Regions from separate parts of the Homo sapiens genome. Here regions 2, 3 and 4 are each linked to region 1. The links come from fine-mapping of genetic effects on gene expression. A gene starts in region 1. Each other region holds a variant in brackets. All regions are shown on one strand. Distances are between the middles of the regions.

Evidence for each region. PIP is the estimated chance that this variant, and not a neighbour inherited with it, causes the effect. A credible set is the group of variants that fine-mapping cannot tell apart.
Region 2: its variant is the best candidate, but not a certain one, in a credible set for the expression of EFR3A in monocytes (TOPMed, PIP 0.85).
Region 3: its variant is the best candidate, but not a certain one, in a credible set for the expression of EFR3A in whole blood (TOPMed, PIP 0.71).
Region 4: its variant is the best candidate, but not a certain one, in a credible set for the expression of EFR3A in transverse colon (GTEx, PIP 0.51).

Annotation. Positions count from the first base shown.
Region 1 is chr8:131,901,054-131,906,282 of GRCh38, reverse strand. It overlaps EFR3A (EFR3 homolog A), which reads right to left and starts at 2,190. Exons shown (of 23, transcript NM_015137.6): 1 at 1,961-2,190. The coding sequence starts at 1,970. RefSeq lists an enhancer at 1,194-1,243 and a silencer at 1,814-2,293.
Region 2 is chr8:131,984,593-131,989,592 of GRCh38, reverse strand. It overlaps EFR3A (EFR3 homolog A), which reads right to left. Exons shown (of 23, transcript NM_015137.6): 16 at 4,533-4,664; 17 at 3,332-3,399; 18 at 1,891-2,018. Among named protein-coding and RNA genes, the nearest start is that of OC90, 72 kb to the left of the region's middle. The variant T/C (reference allele first, on the strand shown) is at 2,492.
Region 3 is chr8:131,927,638-131,932,637 of GRCh38, reverse strand. All of the region lies in intron 1 of EFR3A (EFR3 homolog A), which reads right to left. Among named protein-coding and RNA genes, the nearest start is that of EFR3A, 26 kb to the right of the region's middle. The variant A/T (reference allele first, on the strand shown) is at 2,786.
Region 4 is chr8:131,973,852-131,978,851 of GRCh38, reverse strand. EFR3A (EFR3 homolog A) reads right to left here. Exons shown (of 23, transcript NM_015137.6): 11 at 2,711-2,825; 12 at 1,760-1,811; 13 at 1-5. Among named protein-coding and RNA genes, the nearest start is that of EFR3A, 72 kb to the right of the region's middle. The variant T/A (reference allele first, on the strand shown) is at 2,383.

The DNA of each region.
Region 1 (5,229 bases):
ACAGAGAATAACAATTTTGCCATCTCTGTGTTGGATATATATTCTACAAACAGAATTTCAAAGAAATATTGTTGTCCACTGCACTATCCCAGCAATTTCGGCAGCTGTGACTGCCAAAGGAGAGAAAAGGCAAATATGAACACTATTCACCTCACACTGGTACCCCCAATCAATCCACAGCACATTTTTATTCAGTCATAAAAAATGTACCATGACAAATATTAACAATGACAGATAAAACAAACATTTCACTTGTCTTCCAGTCAGGGTGTGAAATCTGCATTCTTAACTATGTAAACTCCACCATGGCCCATCCTAAAATCATTTTGCAGAATGAACTCAACATTTGAAAAGAAACGAGTTTACTATATCCACTCTGTGAAGCTAGATAACCCTAGAACATAACTAAAAATTTTATTTCACAGGATAATTCTGGCATGTTACCAATAAATTCTACTTGAAGCCTCAACTTTCAATAGGTGCTTACCTCCTCCCCTTTGGTTTCTCAGAAAATAAAAGATTAGCATAGTGCTAGTCTCAGATATTCACTGAATAACGTGAACATGAATTTAGAAGTACTAAACTGGCAATAACAATGAAGATGATTGTAAATGATATTCCTCCAGCCAAAAGGAATAAAACAGAAATTTAAACTGGACATATTTACTGGATGCGAAGTCCAAGAACGTGAGTTAAGGACACACAGTAGTGTGTGAAGAAAACAAAATCCACAGTACCCACACATGTATGAGGAGTTAAAAGTAATCTCTACATCAGGACTATGTAAAGATTTGCCACAGGAAAATCTTTAAATCTCAAAAAGATATTTAAATATCTTTAATATCAATTTAAATTTAATATCCTTAAATATCAGGAAAATATCAATCTTTATAATATCAAGAAATAACTCATCTTTTCCCACCACTAGACGAAACGTGCATTGGAGACTGACCTGGAAATTCAGCGTCCCAGATGGCTACAAAACAAGGACAACTAGAAGTAGTTATGAATTCTAGGAAATATATTCACAAGTGTGTAAAGATTCTATAGTATTGAACACTTAGTCAAAGGAGTCCTACTTGAATTCTCAAATCAATGACAAAGTTGCTTCCTCTCTACCCAAGATCAGGAGCTTCCCTAGTTTGCACATATCCACATTGACCAGTGGCTATAAAGTCACACTGCGATTATCTGGGTCATTTTAAAATAGGTCATTAGCAGTACTTGTAGTATCGCGTCTGTCTAAAAATCCTCCAACACCGAGTGACTTTTAAACTTTGGGGTGCCTTGGTAACCCCAGGGACGCTTATTAGACATGCAGACTCCGGGGCCCAAGCTCCAGACTAATTCCATGGGAATAGGGCGGGTCCCGAAACCGGCATTTTTAATCATCTGCCCGGGTGAATCCGAAGTGTGGTCCAAAAGCCACAGTCGAGGTGCCTCTGCCTAACAAGCTCCACAGAAAGCTCCGACTTCAGCCGCCCCGACGGCGATACGGACGCCGAGTTAGGCTGTCGGGGGTCTGTCTGGCGGCCGCGGGAAGGGACTCGGGGCCGGCGCGTCCACTAGCGACGTCCGGCCCGAGGTGAGAAGGGACTGACAATGGTACCGCAGTTATTTTCAATATTTCCATAAAGTCCCACGAAGCCGTGTGGCCGTGGGAAAAGGGCTTTAACTTTGAAATCCCACGGGTCAGGTTACCACCAGCTCTGCCGCCTCCTAACAGCGCGTCCCCGCAGTTCCCTTAACGTTCGGGCCTCAGTTTCCCGATCCGTGCAACGGGCTCACGCCATCTCCGGAAGGCTAAGCCGAAACGAAACTAACTCCGCCGCTCGCAGACACTTCCTGGCTCTGCTCAGCGCGGCCCAGCCTCCCCAGCCGCCCGGGAGGAGTACCCGGCCCAAGCGCGTCGCGCAGGCAGTCGCCTCCCAACGCCCCCGGCCCTCGGCCGGCCACTCACGGGTAGGCATGGCGATCTCGACCGCGCTCGCCGCCGCACCGAGGCTCAGCGGGGCCGCGCAGGGAGCGCCGACGGCACCATGACGGCCGTTGCTGGGCCGCGGAGGCCGGAACGAGGCGAAGGGCGAAGGGCGAAGGGTGGAGGGAGCGGACGCGGACCCCGCGGTCACGCAACCAAGCGGGCGACAGCTACCGCCGCCAGCCCACTCCTCGCCGGGCGGCGCGACGGACGACCCACGCCCGTTACGTCAGCGCGCCGCCGCCGTCCCGGCCCCGCCCCCGCGGATGGCCGGGCTCGGCCCAGGATCCCTTGTCGAGCGGGTGGAATGGGTGGCTGGGGACAGCCACGTAGAACAACTTCGGGTGCCTTCTATTTTCCAAGCCTGGTGACCTGCGTGGCATTCGTTTTCCTTGATCTCTATTTGGAGTGCATCACTTTACGTTTGTGAGGATGATGGCTTTGAGCGCACGGAGTACCTGTGGGCTTTTTCTTTTGCAATCGGTTTAACTTGCAGTGCGTTTTGCATACTCTGAAAGCATGGTTTATTTGAGATGCACTAAGGTCATTTGGGGTGATGGCTGCTCATTTTTTGAGAGGGCAGAAAATGTAATTTCCTTTTGCTCTTGTGACTTTCAGAGCGACCTTATCCCTCAGGAGTTAGTCTCCTCTGGAGAGGGCAGCTCTGTGCACTTGGCTGAGCTACTCTTCTTGACTCTGGGTGTCATTAATAATTGAGGTATCTAATAGTCACCAAGCTGAGCAGACACCGGGAGCCAGAGAGCTGAGCAACGCACCTACACTATGCTAGGCGCCGTGGGCTGCGGACAGCCCATATGGAGATATAAAAGCCAACCGCAGAGGTTTAACACAGCCTTCCTCAAAGTGGGTCAAAGTGGTCCAGGATCCTTTTGTGCTTGGATCCCCTGGGGACTTGTTGAAAAGCAGATTCCTAGGTGCTGAGCCAAATCTACGAACACATATACAGATGATTTAAATACAATGATAATACTGAGAACCTTTGTCCTAAAAAGTAGGGCTAACCTTCTGATTAAGAAATGATATTGTGCAGTACTGGGAGGAGAAGATGAAGAACATGAAGATCAGAGCTAGGAAGCGCTGAGGAGAAATTAGTCTTGGCTTGAGGTGGACTTGGAAGAAAGCAGAATTTGAATTAGCAAAGCCTAGGGGAGTCCTAAAAGAGGCTGGGGAGAGGATGAAGGGTAATTTAGAGTGAGTCATGGCAGCTGGGGAGAGGAGAGTGTGTACTGTACCTATAAAAGAGACTGTCCAGCTGGGAACGGTGGCTCACGCCTGTAATCCTAACACTTTGGGAGACCGAGGTGGGCGGTGGGCAGATCACCTGAGGTCAGGAGTTCGAGATCAGCCTGGCCAACATGGCGAAACCCTGTCTGTACTGAAAATGCAAAAATTAGGCGGGGGTGGTGGCACATGCCTATATTCTCACTCAGCTACTTGGGAAGCTGAGGAAGGAGAATCGCTTGAACCCAGGAGACGGAGTTTGCAGTGAGCCGAGATCGGGCCACTGGACTCTAGCCTGGGCTACAGAGCAAGACTCCATCTCAAAAAAAAAAAAAAAAAAAGAGAGACTGTCCCTTGCTAACAGTAAAGACCAAACTACCTAGTGCTTATTCATGTTTTAATGCCCTGTTGCATATTTTATCACCTATAAAATCTTTCATGCTTCCAGTTTTCTCCCTAAGACTTTGGCATTATCTTGATTCCTCTCTGCTACAGCACTTTTCTCACTGCATCCTAAATAAACTGTCATGAGTGCTTGTGTTTTACCATGGGCCTATTTGCTTTTCAGAAAATGGCAAAAGCCATATTCTGTTCATGTTTATGTATCCTTGGCTGGCACACAGGTGGGGGCCAGAGTATATTAATTCAATATATAAATAAAGGATTTTATTCAAGAGTATGAAAACAAAAACAGGTAAATAAAACTGATAAACAACTTTACATTCAACCTTGGAATTTGTCTTTTAAGAAACTGTTCTGTGATTTTTACAAAAAGCATAACAGTAACATTAAATTATCAGAAGCAGGGCCTTGCAGGGGGAATGGTGTGGCAGAGAAACTGTGGAGGTAGGCAGCCAAATCGGAAGGCCCCAATACAGGAGAGAGTGTTAGGTGCTCAGTCTTGGTGGTGGCTGTGGAAAAAGAAAGAACTGAATCTTACTTTGGAAAAGAATCCCTGGATTTGTTGGCTGCTGACTTGGGAGCAATAGAGAGGCATCTGTTAGTTATGTAACTCCAAGGTTGGAACAAGGAAAGTGGTGGTGCTGGAGAGCAGTAGACCAGTCAGGAAGAAATGCTGTTTTAGGGAAGGGGTGTGAAGAAAGGTGTGAGTTTCTCCTTGACATATTGAGCTTGAGGTGGTATCAGAGGGAGACATCCGAGTGAATGAATCTGAAGGCAGCTGGGCAAGCCAGGATGAAGGTGGGCTGAGGGACCTCAGGGTGGGAGATTTGGAAATCTTTGGTCCCGGGACAGGAGCTGAAGCTGGGTGTCAAAGAGAGCCCTTTTAGGGAAGATGTGGAGGCAGTGAAGGCACAGAGAGACGAGATCCACAGGATACAGTGCCCCAGGAGCCAAGGGAAGACATGACTCCAAAAGGCAGACATCTCTGCTTACATTACCTTGAAAAAGATGCAGATCCCAAAGGCCCTGAAATTGTCCTGCACATACTGGTTGTTTTTTTGTTTGTTTGTTTTTCATTTCTTTCTGTTTTTAATCCTCTTGGTCTTTTGGTTTTGTATTGTTGCCAGAAATAAAAATCAGCAGCCAAAGATTCTGAGGAAGGACAGCTGAATGTCAGGAAAAATAGTGTCATAATGTTTTGATTATATATACAGTACCTACGTGGTTTTTTTTTTTTCCCTAGTTTGTGCACATTGGTAGCAATGTTACCATACTCTTTCCCTAACCTATCCTCTGGATCCGAGTTCTGCCGGTGTATCCACCACAGCCAGCCCCCGCTTCCTTTTTGATTTTTTTTTTTTTTTTTGAGACAGAGTTTCACTCTGTCGCCTAGGCTGGAGTGCAGTGGTGCAATCTCACCTCACTGCAGCCTCCACCTCCTGGGTTCAAACAATTCTCCTAACTCAGCCTCCCAAGTAACTGGAACTACAGGTGCATGCCACCACGCCTGGCTAATTTTTGTAATTTTAGTAGAGACGGGGTTTTGTCATGTTGGCCAGGCTGGTCTCAAACTCCCAGCCTCAAGTGATCTGCCTGTCTCGGCCTCT
Region 2 (5,000 bases), 83 kb before region 1:
TAGTGAAATCAAATAATTTATTAAGCAACTAACTGGAGAGGCTGTTAGTGGTGTCACCTAATCATTTAATTCAATTTTAGCCTCACTATACTCATTTGTAAACAAAGATAATGCTATCTTCCTCACCAAACCATTATGAGAATTACATAAGAAAATGAATACTAAGCACTTATCACAGTGCCTAGCACACAGTGCATAATAAATGGTAGCTACTATTGTGATGATGATGGGTACTACATGACACACAACAAACTAAATATGTTCTGCTTTTTATTTTAATACATTGTTCTTAAATCCCTTGAATTTTTTAAATGAATATCTGATGGTTACACAGCAAAAGGAAATTTAATTACAGATTCAGTATCCCATAAAATATCACTGTTTATTCTGTTTCTGCATTAAGGTAGGATACTAATGCCACAGATAGGTTCTAAACTATCAGTCTTCACAAATCAGAAAAATCTAGTAGGATTTCTAGTAGTGCAGTTATACAATTAAGTAGACACTAAAATATTCAGAATTCTTCTAGTCATTGGTAGAGATGCATTATGAGAGAATACATCTTTTTTAGGGATGGGAGGAATCAGGGAAGTGCAGACCATTTGTTAAAAATTTTGAAAGTACCAGAGCTTTCATTAAAAATTGTTAAGAGTTAAAGGAACAGGGTAAAAAGAAATAACAGGGGTAAAAATAAACTAGGGCTATAAGGAAGATAAAGGAAAATAATAATTAAACTAATTATAGAAAATATGCAGGCCACTGGCCCCATTTTCTAAAAGGCACATTTTATTAAGCTATTTTCCTAGAGGACAGGTAAGGGAAAAGGCAGGCCAAACTGACAACTGGATTTACCTTTGTGCTTGTGCCTGGGTTTAAGAGGTTTTTTGCTTGAAGGAAAGAGAGCTAAATTCAAATTATAAGAGTAAAATATTTTAAATGTTTTTTTAATATTTTAAATTATAAAGCTCTAATAATCTTTTGTTCTTAGCACTTTTATTTCCTCAAGGAGTTCCTGAGGAACACAATCTTTTAAAGCATAAAATTTAAAAGAAAATGCAAAAGCACTCATTAACATCTCAGACTGTTATGAACAACTATTACTGTACTAAATGTATATATTTTGGATCCATGTTATTAAAAAAAAGCCATTTACAAAGACTGCACTACTTGTAGTGACTAATCCAGAAATCTTTCTAAGTGAAATCAAATGGTTCTCTTGTAGAACAGAGGTATCCCCAAAGAACTAATTCACTTACAAAATTTAATATTTATATAGTCACCAAATTAAAATGAAAGCATAAGACATAAATTCTTTGATTTTAATTTTTACAGTAAAAGTTGAATACAAGACACTATGCAATTTTGCCTTCAAACAGAATTATTTCAAGCAATGGGAAAATATATAGTTCACAGAGAAAATATATAGTTCACAGAGAAAAAAAAATTCCTAACTCAAAAAGTTTGTAGTTTTATTTATATAACAAGTCTGTACTCTTTCAAATAACGAAAGTTGCCTAATTCATTAACCTAAATAATCACTTATCATTAAACAATTTTCATCAATTTCCATAACTTAAATAGAATATCATTTAATGAGAAAAGATCTCACTTTAAAATATACTATTAAATAAAATATTAAGTATTGTAACAATAAATATTCAAGGACTTGATTTGCTCCTGGTAAAATCATATCTATGTCGTTAGAGATTTACTGAAGGTTTTCAATAGCAAAATTAAAAAACAGAAGTAAATACTCTTAAGCATTTGAAAATGGCTGGGCTATAGTAAGGACACACACCAGAATTAATTTTCATTGTTAACTGGGTAATGAAAAATTTACTATAACATAAGCAATCACCAGAGTGAAAGTTCTAATTATCCTCCTCTTACCTGTTACTTGTGGTACATACGGAACTGACAATCTCTCAACACTATATCCACTTCCACCTAGCGACTCTGCAATCTTGTTGGTCAGAAAGTACAAATCTTTTTCATGCTTCTCTAAAGATTTTGGAAGCCTGCGAAGTTCATCAAAACAACAATCATTCAGTATTAAATTACTGAGCAAAAATAAGTTACTATGCAAAACATTCCAGAGCAAAAGCCTCAATATTCTAAATATAAACACAATGTAAACTGTAGTAGCAGAAAAATCAGTATATTTTAGGCAACTAATTTGAGCTCTTTAAAAACACACAGTATGTGGTCCCATATATTAACCATTCTGCAGTGATTCTTCTCTCAGTAACATTCCAATAGTGAATTCAGCCTTGTATTACTCTGTTGATCTTTACTTGTTAAGTAATAAAGAACACTAAATGTAGCTTTTATTGTCATGTTAATTAAAAAGTGTACTGAGAGACAAAATAAAAAAAAAATCATTAGCCCACTGATTGTTAATGAAAACCACATTAGCCAGCTAAGTGTAAGGAAGTACTTGCCCACCCACATAAGGTTTCACTTTCCTTGCAAACTGCTTGATATTATCTTA[T/C]GCTGATGCTTTCAAAATAAACTGCTTTTATAGCCCAAAAGTTCAAACAAAATATTATTCATATATATACTTTTCTTTAGAGAACAAGAAATAATGCAGGAAATAACACGGATTTTCCTTAATACATTCTTTCTTCCACAATATTTTGAGTATTGTTACCTATTACTGAACGTCTTCAACAGGATACTGTACTCTCTTAAAGGTTTGATCATTTACATATGAGAACATAAAATATGCTATATTTAAGAGACATATCCAACAGTTTTTAAAAAGTGGGGTAAGTTTTCTTATTCTTTTTTTTTTTTTTTTTTTGAGATGGAGTCTCGCTCTGCTCTTTTACCCAGGCTGGAGTGCAGTGGTGTGATCTTGGCTCACTGCAACCTCCACCTCCTGGGATCAAGCGATTCTCCAGCCTCAGCCTCCTGAGTAGCTGGGACTACAGGCACATGCCACCATACCCAGCTAATTTTAGTATTTTTTAGTAGAGACGGGGTTTCACCATGTTGGCCAAGCTGGTCTAAAACTCCTGACCTCAGGTGATTCACCCGCCTCAGCGTCCCGAAGTGTTAGGATTACAGGCGTGAACCACTGCGCCTGGCCAAGTCTTATTCTTAAAAAATTTTTTCAAGATTGACTCCATGTTGTGCATAAGTCAACATCCATAATGTGCAGGCCCTTTTATAACAAGGGAAATAATTAAATGAATTAAATGACAGACACAAAATGATGATTAGTATAAAGCACCAGGAATTATTGTAACAATATTTACTCCTTTATAATTATTACTGATGGGTTTATCAAGTCAGTACCCCATCCTTAAAATGTAAAGAATTAACATACATGCACTTATCTCTGAAGATATGCTCTGGTAGAAAATAAGGGGCTTCCATAGTTCGAATTTCAATAACCTAAAAAATATTCAAAAACAGAACAAAAATCAAAAACCCTACCCCTCAGTACCTTGCTATAAAAATTCAGAAAACAGCTTAAAAAAAAACAACTTTAAACATTTATAAGAAATAACATCACTTTGTTTTTGAATTTAAGCTAAGTTTACAGCCCAAATGTAAAGTTTGTTTTGTTTTCACATCTATTATTTTTAAAATTTAACAGATAAAACTGTGACAATAAAATAATATATAAAGCAAAAAATGATGACACATTACATTTGATTAAGCCTATTATAATAAAGCAAGAATATCTATTTTCTCAAATGCACTATTTTGGAAATCGCTTTACAAATCACCATCCTCCACCTGCTGCATTACCTTTTGCAGCCTGTGTACAAGGTCTCCAGGCACTTGTGTGGACTGGCTCCTCCAATGAACTGTGAGCAAAGAGGTACTCTGCTTTTGTAGTATTTACTTCTCTAGTGGTGGGCATCAAATATTCACTCAAATGTCTGATTAATGAATGGATGAGTTTTGTTTCTTAGAGTACACTACAAGTCTACATTTTAGCAAGGACTAAATGATGTGCTTCCAATTTAAGAAAAATAAAGTTCTCTCTTACAGATGTCTTTAAAAGTGGACTTTTTCTGCTAGGTAACTTGGGGGCATTGAAATGTTTATTAAGTCATGCAAATAACCATGTAAGAGTTACTGCTAAAGACAACTAAATATATTTGAAAGACACAAGACAATTCTCTGAGATGCACAGTAATTATTCAACTTTTGAGATCTGCCTCAAGTAGTTTAGAATAAACAACAAAAGAGTATAATTTAAGAAAATTTACATACTAAGAGTCATAAGGGTTCAAAGGAAAAAAGTCATAGAATAAATCACATAAGGTATTCTAGAAGAAAACCACATATTCCATTCAACCACTACATTAAACTATTATAATAAAACAACATGCATCTAAGAAAATATAAAAACAGTAGCTACAGTTTTAGCTGTAGTTTCAGTTTACTGGCTGTAGATTTTTATAGAATTACCTTAATTTGATACGTAATCACCAAAGTTAAAAATAATCATCACTGGAATAAAATTAGCAATTTTGTACAAAATTCAAGTTTAAGGACTTTTCTAAATACATTACCTTGCTAACATGCTGGCAAAATGCAGGGACAGCTATCATCTGACTTACAAAGTTGAGGTATGCTGCAACCAGTGCCATGATTCCACAACGATGGAACATTGGCAAATTATCCTCATTGATAATTGCACTGTCCTTTAATAAGAAACAAACACATCAGAGAGATCAAGTTCTTATACTTCACCAGCATTTTCTCTGATTACACTGGAAAACTGCAGGTAGTTTGGAAAGCTAACAAAAATGCCACTTTATCAGAAGTTATTTTCTAAAACAATTCTGAAAGGAAAACAAATGTTCTTTTACAAGAGAGTTAATTTTTCCAACTTAAACTCTCTTCCCTAGGAAAGCCTTTCCTGTTCTCATATATATATACACACACACACGGACATGCATATATGGCCATTGCATACTGTCCTTCTATTACATAACACTTACGCAACTCTAATTAAACAACTGCATGTATGTCATTCT
Region 3 (5,000 bases), 26 kb before region 1:
TTAGAGAAAATCTTGGTAAATACACAAAGTAACAAAGCTAGCTAACATGTATAGGAGTATTTTACCTTAAAAACTGAGATCTGTGTTTCTGGTAACAGCTTCCTTTAATGCCAAGAGGACAAAAGAAACTGAACTTACAGCTTCCCCTTTATTAGCCTATTTATAAGCTAAATATTTCCTGTAAAGGACTTCTAACAACCTGAATAAATATTCATGGAACACCAAGGAACATTGTTAAATGTCTTTTTGAAAACTGCTTTTGTTATATCAATGCTTGAACATAAGCTAATGGCCCAGGAACTGTCTGTCACTCATTTCTAAACCATTTTAAAAGAACAAATTATTTTGAGACAACTAAAATCTTCTGTAGTTTAAAAATACTATTAAGGTAAATTAAAAATTCCACATACAAAACAGAAAAATTCTCATAAAAAATAAAGACACCTCAAATTAGGGGGTCTCAAAAATGCTCACAATTAGAAATCAAAATACAGAAAGAACCAATAACATTAGTACAACAAAAAATGGGATTGTGGCAAGAATATGTGAAGGCAAGAACTCAACTTGCAAATCACTTATTTACATGGTTTCAAGCTTCAAAGGAATTTATATAATTTGGCATTTTGAGAGTGGCTGGGGGGTGCTATCATTAATTATGCCAGGACCAGTGGCATAAACTTTGACCATCCTAGGCAAACCAGGAGCCAGGATAATCCTACTTATTCTCCTGCGTATTGGAACATGTCTAAAGGTATCAAATAGTCAAATTTTCAGCTACAACTGCAAAATGAAGAAAAGCAGCAAGAATCCAGTCAGGGCAGAAAAAGATGAAGACAAAAAGAAACATAGAAGACCAGTAAAACAAATGAAAAACCCTAAGATGTTAGCTGGTTTTTTTTCATATATAATAACTATAATACTTACCATGTATCAAATAATGCAACAATTTTTATAGAAAGCTCATTTACTCAACATTTGTAATGAAAATGTTTTATAAAATGTCTACTACATATAAGGCATTGTGAAATTTGCAAATATTCATACAACTGGTTCCTGATATTAAGCAGTCTAATATATATTGAGATTGTAAGAAATCAACATTACAGAAAACAAAATATATAGTTCTTTTACTAAAAACAAAGCTAGATGCAAACAAAATAGTAACAATAGAAAATGACTGGATTTACCCTCAGTCTTGGGGTATAACTATATATACCTAATTATACTGATTTATCTATCAAACGTTTAACATTAACACATCTCTAAGAAACAATTACCACAACTTCTAACTCCCTAACAAAATCAACATTCATAAAAATCTTCTCTTACTGTTTGTATTTATTCTTTAATTGTACAAGGTTGCCTTGGAATAAATACAATCAAAGCGAACTATGTTTCCATAGTACAATGCTTCTCTAAGGGTGGCCTATGAGCCCTCTGAAGAAGAATCTCCTAGATTACTTTTAAAAGTGAATACTCCCTGCCCCCAACCCAGGACTTTCTGAATCAATCCCTGGGATGGCATACCAGAATTCTTCTTTCTAAAAATAAGCCTCCCCCTCCCACCATGGCCCTCATGCACACCCACGTTCATTCGGGAGCCATTGCTCTAGAGAACCACTCCCCTTGTATAATGATGTAGAGAATTTAGCATATGACTTTTTCTTATTGTGTACTTCAGGTATTCGGGAAACTGTCCTTACCTAAGTTATGCAATAGATAAGTTATAATATAGGCTGCACCTCGTAAGATCATCTTATATATTACAATAACTGAATCATAAATAGCACTATAAAGAACCAGGAGACCAAATGAGTGAGAAAAATAATGAATGCTATGACATTCAGAAAAGACTTCACAGGAGATGCTGATGTGATAAAGACCTATCACTGGCAACAGGGAGCTGGTATTTGTGGCTAAGACCACTAGAATTTCCCCATTATTTTCAAATGCTGCCACCAGACCTCATTAGGGAGTAGATTTTCTAAGTAACTTGTATAAATGAATACTTAGCAGACTCATGTCAGAAATAAATCATGACTAAATGGTCTTTAAAATCCTAAGCCAAGTATTTCAAGTATAGTAAAGGAAAAGTGAAATTATCATGATCAAATTTTCCACGTTTTTCTAAAACATGACCAGACCTTTGAAATTTCTCTTAAGATTGTGCTGATATGTTTCTCTGTATTTCATTCCACCGTGTTCTTAAAATTATCAGTCCTTGGGAATTATTTTACATGCAATGGCTAGAGAACAGGTTATACCTTTGGATAAACTATTCTATTCATCTGTTCCTATCTTCCCTAGAGAAGACTTCTGCTATAAGAGGAAAAGTGACTTATTTTACTCGTCAGTCTGGAAAAAAGGAACCTAGTAGGCTCTAAAACATAAGCACCAAATCTATATCTGCACCATCTGCACAATGTCCATCCAGCACATGGTAAGAGCTCAATATCTATTTGTTAAATGAATGAATAAACAAACTCTTAAGAGTTTCTCCTTCAGATGTGCAGTCTGCAATTCATTCTTCCTGCTTATAAGCATACCTGGGTCTGGAAGTGTGTATCTTTACATGATCTCCATGGAGTTATAGGGCAGTTTGAATCAATGTGCCTTCCTTGCAAAAGGCTTGGTCAATGTGTTTGCTCTGCTAACTTGGGGTGTCCCTCAGATACATCATTGGAAAGTTTAGATTTGGAGGAAAAGTAACAGAAAGACTGATAATGGACAAAGATCAAGATGCATTCTCCAACCCAGCTTTACTAGTAGTAAAACTGGTATTTTG[A/T]CTTGCTTCAAACTGACTCTTATATTTCTGTATTTCAGTTGGTTCTCAACTCAGAGAGGGACACAGGTGAAACTGCTACCCTCTGAAAACCAAAAAACAAATGTGCCTCAGAAATATACATAAATGGGAAAAACAATACCCAATCTCATGTATTCTTTTAACAATCATTTAGTGAAGCCTACCATGCCCTAGGCACTAAACTAAATGTAGGGAATACAAATACAGGCCACAATCCCTGGCCATTTAGTAGCTCGTAGTCTGGTGGGAAAAGATAATCACATACAGAAAGAATTATCTCTGTGATAACAACTATCACAGGTTGCTATGAGATAATAGCTAATGGGATAACAAACCTTTCTGCAAGAAGTAATGACTAAATTAAGTCTTGAAGAAAAAGTAGAAATTAGGCAAAGAGGAGAGGATTATTATTCCCAGGCAAAGGGAGCCACATCTATTAAGGCTCTTAAGAGGTTTAAACAATGTGGTTTTAATTTGAAAGTAAGCATAAAGTTCTGCAACATGAGAAAAATGCCTAGGCAAACTTGCAGGAAGCTGACTTGGAAACAACTGAGTATAGAAGGTAAAGAGGAAGAGACAGGAAAGTTTGGACAACTGGTTGGATGCTAGTGTCACTGACCAACAAGGAACACAAGAGGATACACTCTGGGGTAAAAGGAGGATATCAAGAAGAGAGAATGAATTCTGTTTTGCACATATTAAATTTGAGGTAAACTTGAAGGTGGGATATCCTGTAGCAGACAATTGATCTAAACTAGAAACAAATTTAAAAACCAAAAGCATTTAAGTGATAGCAAAAGCAAATCTGCTGAGATCACTGAAGGCAAATAGGAGACTTAGAGAATCCTGAGGTAAGAAAACATTTAAGGGATGATCAGCACAATAAGAGCAGAAAGAGAAGACCTCTGAATAAACAGAAAGAAAATTACAAAAGGATTGTGTTAGAAAATGCAAAGAATAATTTTTCAAATACTGTACTTTTTACAAAGGTACCAATTATAGAGATAAGATACATGGACTTTAAAAAAACGCTCCAGTAATGAGGAAACATCAGAAAAAGAAATTAAGAATATTTTAAATGCAAGTAAAAAGGAAAACATGATTTTACAATAATGTAATTTAAAATTTCAAGATGGACTAAATATTGTGACCAAAATAAATCACAACAGTGGCAGTTTCAGAATATCCAGACTGAAAATCATTGTTCTATAGACCACATCTGACATGGAAAAAGGAGAAACTGATAACATAGTTTACAACAAGATTATAACTTATTATTTAGGTAATAAGAAATTTCCTTTATGAGGATTTACTAATTTATTGCTACTTTAATCAGCTTTTGGCAAGATAAAAGTCTGCTATCTAAAATACAGAATTTAAGATTACATTTTATAATTTCTAGTAAATGCTGTAGGATAAAATAATTGATCAGAATAACAACAAAAGGAAAATCTGATGATAAATGTCTGAAGAAAAAAATTGTATAATGTCTGCAGAAACCCCACCCTTCATTTAGCATTTAATGTCGAACGTATAAGAAAAGCAGAGATTTCTTCTAACAGGATCAAGAATTGGGCAACTATCTTATTCTTATAATACACACAGTAACAGAAGTTCCACATTTGAAGCATTCTTCCAGGAGAGACATTCAAAGAACATTTTAAGTATTTCATGACTAGTCAACCAATCAATTAGGTTTATAAGGTACTTAACTACACGCAAAGTGCCAGGAATGCAACATGTATGTCTTCAAGAAGTTCCCAAACTAGAAAGACTAAAATTCAAAAAATTATAGTTGTCAGATTTTATTTTCCATTGTCAGAAGACAATTTTAAGATTATAGCTGCAGAATTACTATCAATGCTTGCAAAATCATGATGAACAGGAAGTTCTAAAAGGATGGGAATTTGCAAGGCTTTCACAGTTCATCACATCTATATCTGTTCTTTAACTTGTTTCCGGGTAGTTTCATAAGGGAAGGGCTCTTCTCATTCATCTTTTTATACTCTCACTTTTTAACTTTTTGGTTTTTTTTCTAAAATAATAAACGATAATTCAATTTCCAGTAAGTGAAGAGACAAAAGAAGTTGTAAATTGTAAATGAATAAACTCAATGCCAAAAAATTAACAGATAGCTGGTAACTGATTGGCACACACGTTATGGTTCCTAAAAAAAGCTCTTGCTAAAAACCATTTC
Region 4 (5,000 bases), 73 kb before region 1:
GTCACCTGATTATCGAGAAGAAAACAAACAACCTTTTGTCATGAGTCCTTTTTTTGTAAAATTCTCATATTCTTTTATAAGAACCATAAACTTAGGAAAGAAAATATGGACAGAAGCCTGGAGAAAAGACATAAAAGAAATGTGCAAAGTAATGAAGGATTTTGCTGAATTTACAAAAACATCATTCATAAGAAAAATAAAGTTAATAATAGCACACATTTACCATGTGTTAGGCATGATTCTAAGCACTGCATATGTATTAACTTTGTCCTCACCATATCCCTGTAAGGTAGACACTAGTGAATCGCCATTCATAAGGAGAAACTGAGGCACAGAGAGGTTAAGGTTAGTACAAAACAGATATAAGGAGCTTAGGTGACAAAGAGTAAAAGTAAGACCTGCAAATTTTAAATTTAAGTTTGCAAATTATTCTTTCATTTTAAATTAGGCAGTTGGTTAATAGGAATACATTTTCATTTTGGAAAGCTGTACTTAGTTACTTGATTTGACATTTAAGAGTACGTCAATATCTTCTAAACATAAAACTTTTAAAGAGAATATACTTAAATGCTATTAAACATTTTAAGCATAACATATATTCAGTTGACTATATGGTATAATCAGAAAGGCAAGGCAAAATAATTTACTTAGGGAATTTGTTTAATATAAATAAAGGCTTAGGATCAAATTAAATTGCAGGTGGGAGATCTCAACATATTTTCAGGATTATAAACATGTATGGAATACTTAACATTTACATTTGGGCATTTATTATAGGATGGAGATAGTTTTATAAGTCAGCTGGGAAACTGGTGGGACAACTGTCTACCCATCTGGGAAAATCCATGCCTCATACCACATATAAACATAAACTTCAGATTAAAGTTCTAAATGTAGAGAGCTAAAATTTTAAAACTGCTATAAGAAAATACAAACAAATGTGTTTATATCATCAGAGGAGGAATGGAGTTCTTATATAAGATACAAATGAAAAAGTGCAAAACATATAGAAAAAACTGATAAATCTGGCTATATTAGAATTCAAAACTTCTAAATGACAAGCGCCATAAACAGAATTAAAAAAAATTAAAAATACAACCACACAAGGTATTTCTGCACTTGAGAGAGTCTGTTTAAAAAATTAGATCATGTATAGTAAACATTTCTAGGATAAATCTGAAAGATACTGATTTTGAGAGGACGCATATGTGCTAGCAATGGCTGAATCAAATATGAGTACAATTGCTAGACAATAACCAGAGGACCTTTCATTCTGGGTATACTTTTCCTTTTCAGCTACTTATAGCCACTTCAAATTTTAAATGGCAAATATTCATTTTAATGAATTATTTTCCCAATCAGAAGCAATTATTTGGTCAGTATGAGAAAGAATTAGCATAATATGTTGAAAGAACTTTGGATTTCAAGTCTGAGTTCTGTTTTTTAGCCCAGTGACTTTGGTGGACCTTATCAACTCCTTCCACTCACAGTCTCTGGGCCCAGGTATCTTCGTCTATAAGACAGCAATAGTTTCTGCCCTCTGTATGTTTCATCATTATGAAGATCAAAGACAGTGACAGAAGAAGTGAGAAATAAACGGTAAAAAAATTGGATAATCTTTAAAATGAAGAACATAATAAAATACTAACCATAAACAGTAACTTACTTAAGAAAGAACGGTTGTAACATGAAGCTATTCAATTAATGTTTTCAGTAATTTAAGGTTAAGTGTGTCCTTTATTTGTCTTAAATGCCTTACCATAAGCAAAGATCTCAGCAACATTATCTGAATTCTCCTGGTTCCCAAATCCCTAAAATATACAAAAGGCTGAATTATTATACTAATTAGCATTTATATTACTTCATTTACTTCAATTACTGATTTTAAAATTCTATTCTTATTGGCTAAATAGATTTTATTTTTGTAACAGTTTAAGTCATGGCTCACTTCACATGCCAAAGTAAAATTTCACGTGAATTAAAACTATTATATTTAAAAATATCAAACAAAAAATTTGTTATTGGCTCTCAAACAGTCCTATGCATCTGATGACAAGAAAATTAAATCATATAAACAGACAACTAAACAACCCAAATTAAGGTACCTTAAATTGGAGAAAATAATTACTACATAGTTGATGAATATAATCTTTCTTTAACAAATATGAATAAACAGGTAAGAACAATTTTAAAAAATAACAAATTATGGTCAAAGAAATGTAAGTCGAATAAGATACTATTACTTCCTTATTAAATTAACAAAACAACATTCACAAACAAAAACTTCAGCATATTATAAAATCCAATTAAATGTATAAAATAAGGGGGTCACATAATCTTTAAAATTACTTTCAGTTCTAAAATTCTAGGAATAAGCCAATA[T/A]TTCTGATATATTGACATTAATGTTTAAAATTTATACAGGAAACTTGAAGCTTTACCCTAAATGTGTATGCACACACACAATGTCCAGGCCAAACAATTTCTAAAGATGGAAATATCTGAGAATTTATAAGCTGAAAATGATTCTAAAGGCCTAAAAATGCTAATTCAATTGCTTAGCAATCTACTGTCATAATAATACTAACTGCTTTCCATAGGAATGCTATTACTAATGATTTTTAAAAAAAAACAAAACGTTAACATTTTCTAGATTTCGTTAGGATAAAATGTAACTCAAGATTAAGTTCAAATTTACAGTCTGAGAACATACCCTAGTTGACTGATATCCAAAGTATGGGTAGATGTTCCAAAGACAGGTACTTTCCCCATAATGAACATCATGATTTCTGACCTCTGATAATCTGGTAGGTTACTTCCAAAAAATCCTATGAAAGTATTAAGACAAATTTTAGAAACTGAAAAAGTCTACTTTTCCATATAATACAAAATTATTTTTAGCCAAAGTTTTCAATATGTGGTAAAACAATCCCTCACAAGTCTGTAAGCTACATGTAACATTAAAGGATATTACAATTTCATTTGTACAAAATCATTTAGTTATGTACAATATAAACTGTGTATAATGGACTGGTAGATAAAATGATAAATATATCAAAGTCTTTTTTTATATAATTATAACAGTGACAAACCGGGACTGACTTGAGTTGACTGGAGTTTTAGAAAAAGGAAAAATATTGGCCGGGTGTAGTGGCTCATGCCCATAATCCCAACACTTTGGGAGGCCGAGGTGTGCGGATCACCTGAGGTTGGGAGTTCGAGACCAGCCGGACCAACATGGTGAAACCTCGTCTCTACTAAAAATACAAAATTAGCTGGGCGTGGTGGCACATGCCTGTAATCCCAGCTACTCAGGAGGTTGAGGCAGGAGAATTGCTTGAACCTGGGAGGTGGAGGTCGCGGTGAGCCAAGATCGTGCCACTGCACTCCAGCCTGGGCAACAAGAGCAAAACTCTGTCTCCAAAAAAAAAAAAAAAAAAAATAGGAAAAAAAAAAGAAGGAAAAATATTTTGGTAGTATTTCTGATGAAATTCTAGTTCACACATCGTAAGCCTAAATTTTTGTTCCGGTAATCAGGCCACACATTGTCTGGTAAAGAAGTTAATAATTAGTCACTACTCTGGTTTTCCAGGATTTCTCAAATATTTGAATGTCATTGTAATAAGCCAAGTTTATAGTTTACCCCTGTGAATTAATTCAACATACATAATTCAACTGATGTAAAAAATAAGTAAATAACTTACTTGTCATTTTTCTTATGCAGTCTAGTTTCTGAGAATATTTTAAATTTATCTGCTGTAGCTTTTGATACTTACTTCCTGGTCACAAAAGATTTATAACCTTTAATTATCAATTACTCACACTTTAAAAGTTTCTTATTTCTTTGAAAGATTGGAACAGACTATCAAATCATGGCTGTTATGTTCCTTTCTTAAAATTCAATGTAGTCATTACAGAAACTTTCTGCATTTTTAGTATTTTTTAAGAATAAGCTGACTTTTCAATGTAACTGTTGAGCTTCTATTACTGGAGTTAATGATGTGTTTATATAAACTCAAACTGTTCTATTCATCATTTTGATTGGACTTAGGGGTAAAAGTCATTTCCCACAATCACGTACATTAGCAGTCAAAAATCTCATAACCTTAACATGACTCCATCTCCATAAAGTATATTGTTGTTAACACTTACGGAATACATATTTATGGAATAAGAAACTATTTTGTATTTGGATCCGCAAAATAACCTTTTGAGTCTAGGTTCTATTATTTGTCTCAGTTTCCTCTTATGGAAATGAGGATAAGAGAAGTCAAGAACTCTTACCAAAAAATTACACAGCTAACATTAGGGCCTGAGGTAAGGGTTATTTATTTCCAAAGCTTATGCTATTATTATTCTATACTTCTTCCATACAACTAGATACATTCCTAGTCTTGCAGAAAACTGGACACTGACCTTCTGTTTCAAACAACTTAGTTATTACCACAAGGACATAAAGTACCCTGCACTTCTCTTTACCACAGCACCTAACTACAGTAAAAGTTTGGAGTTAGCAAGCACTATCATACTTCCCTGTATTCAACAACATTTGTATCTCTGATTCAAGGTCATTCTTCATGCTTTTCAAATGCGTGGAATAGTTTCCTCTAATCCAGTGGTTCCCAAGCTTTGCTGCATATTATAATTACCTAGGGGAGCTTTTAACATGCTGATGCATAGGTTACATACCAAAGTAATTAAGTCAGAATATCTGGGGGTGGGAGTCCAAGCATCAGTACTTTTCTAAGATCCTGAGGTAATTTCAACGTTCAACAAAGTTAAGAACCACTGTCCTAAGGAAAAACTCTTATTTTTGTCTCCCAAGTATATGGTCAACTGAGTCCACTATCTCTGATGTTAATTAGACAAACGACTATTAAAGACCTAAAAATAATAATAGTAGGAAAGAAATGCAACTAATATATGCTTTAGAATTGCTTTGATTTTTTTTTAACTTAAAATTGGGTAGGAGTCTTCAACATGATTAACTCTAAGGATAAAGT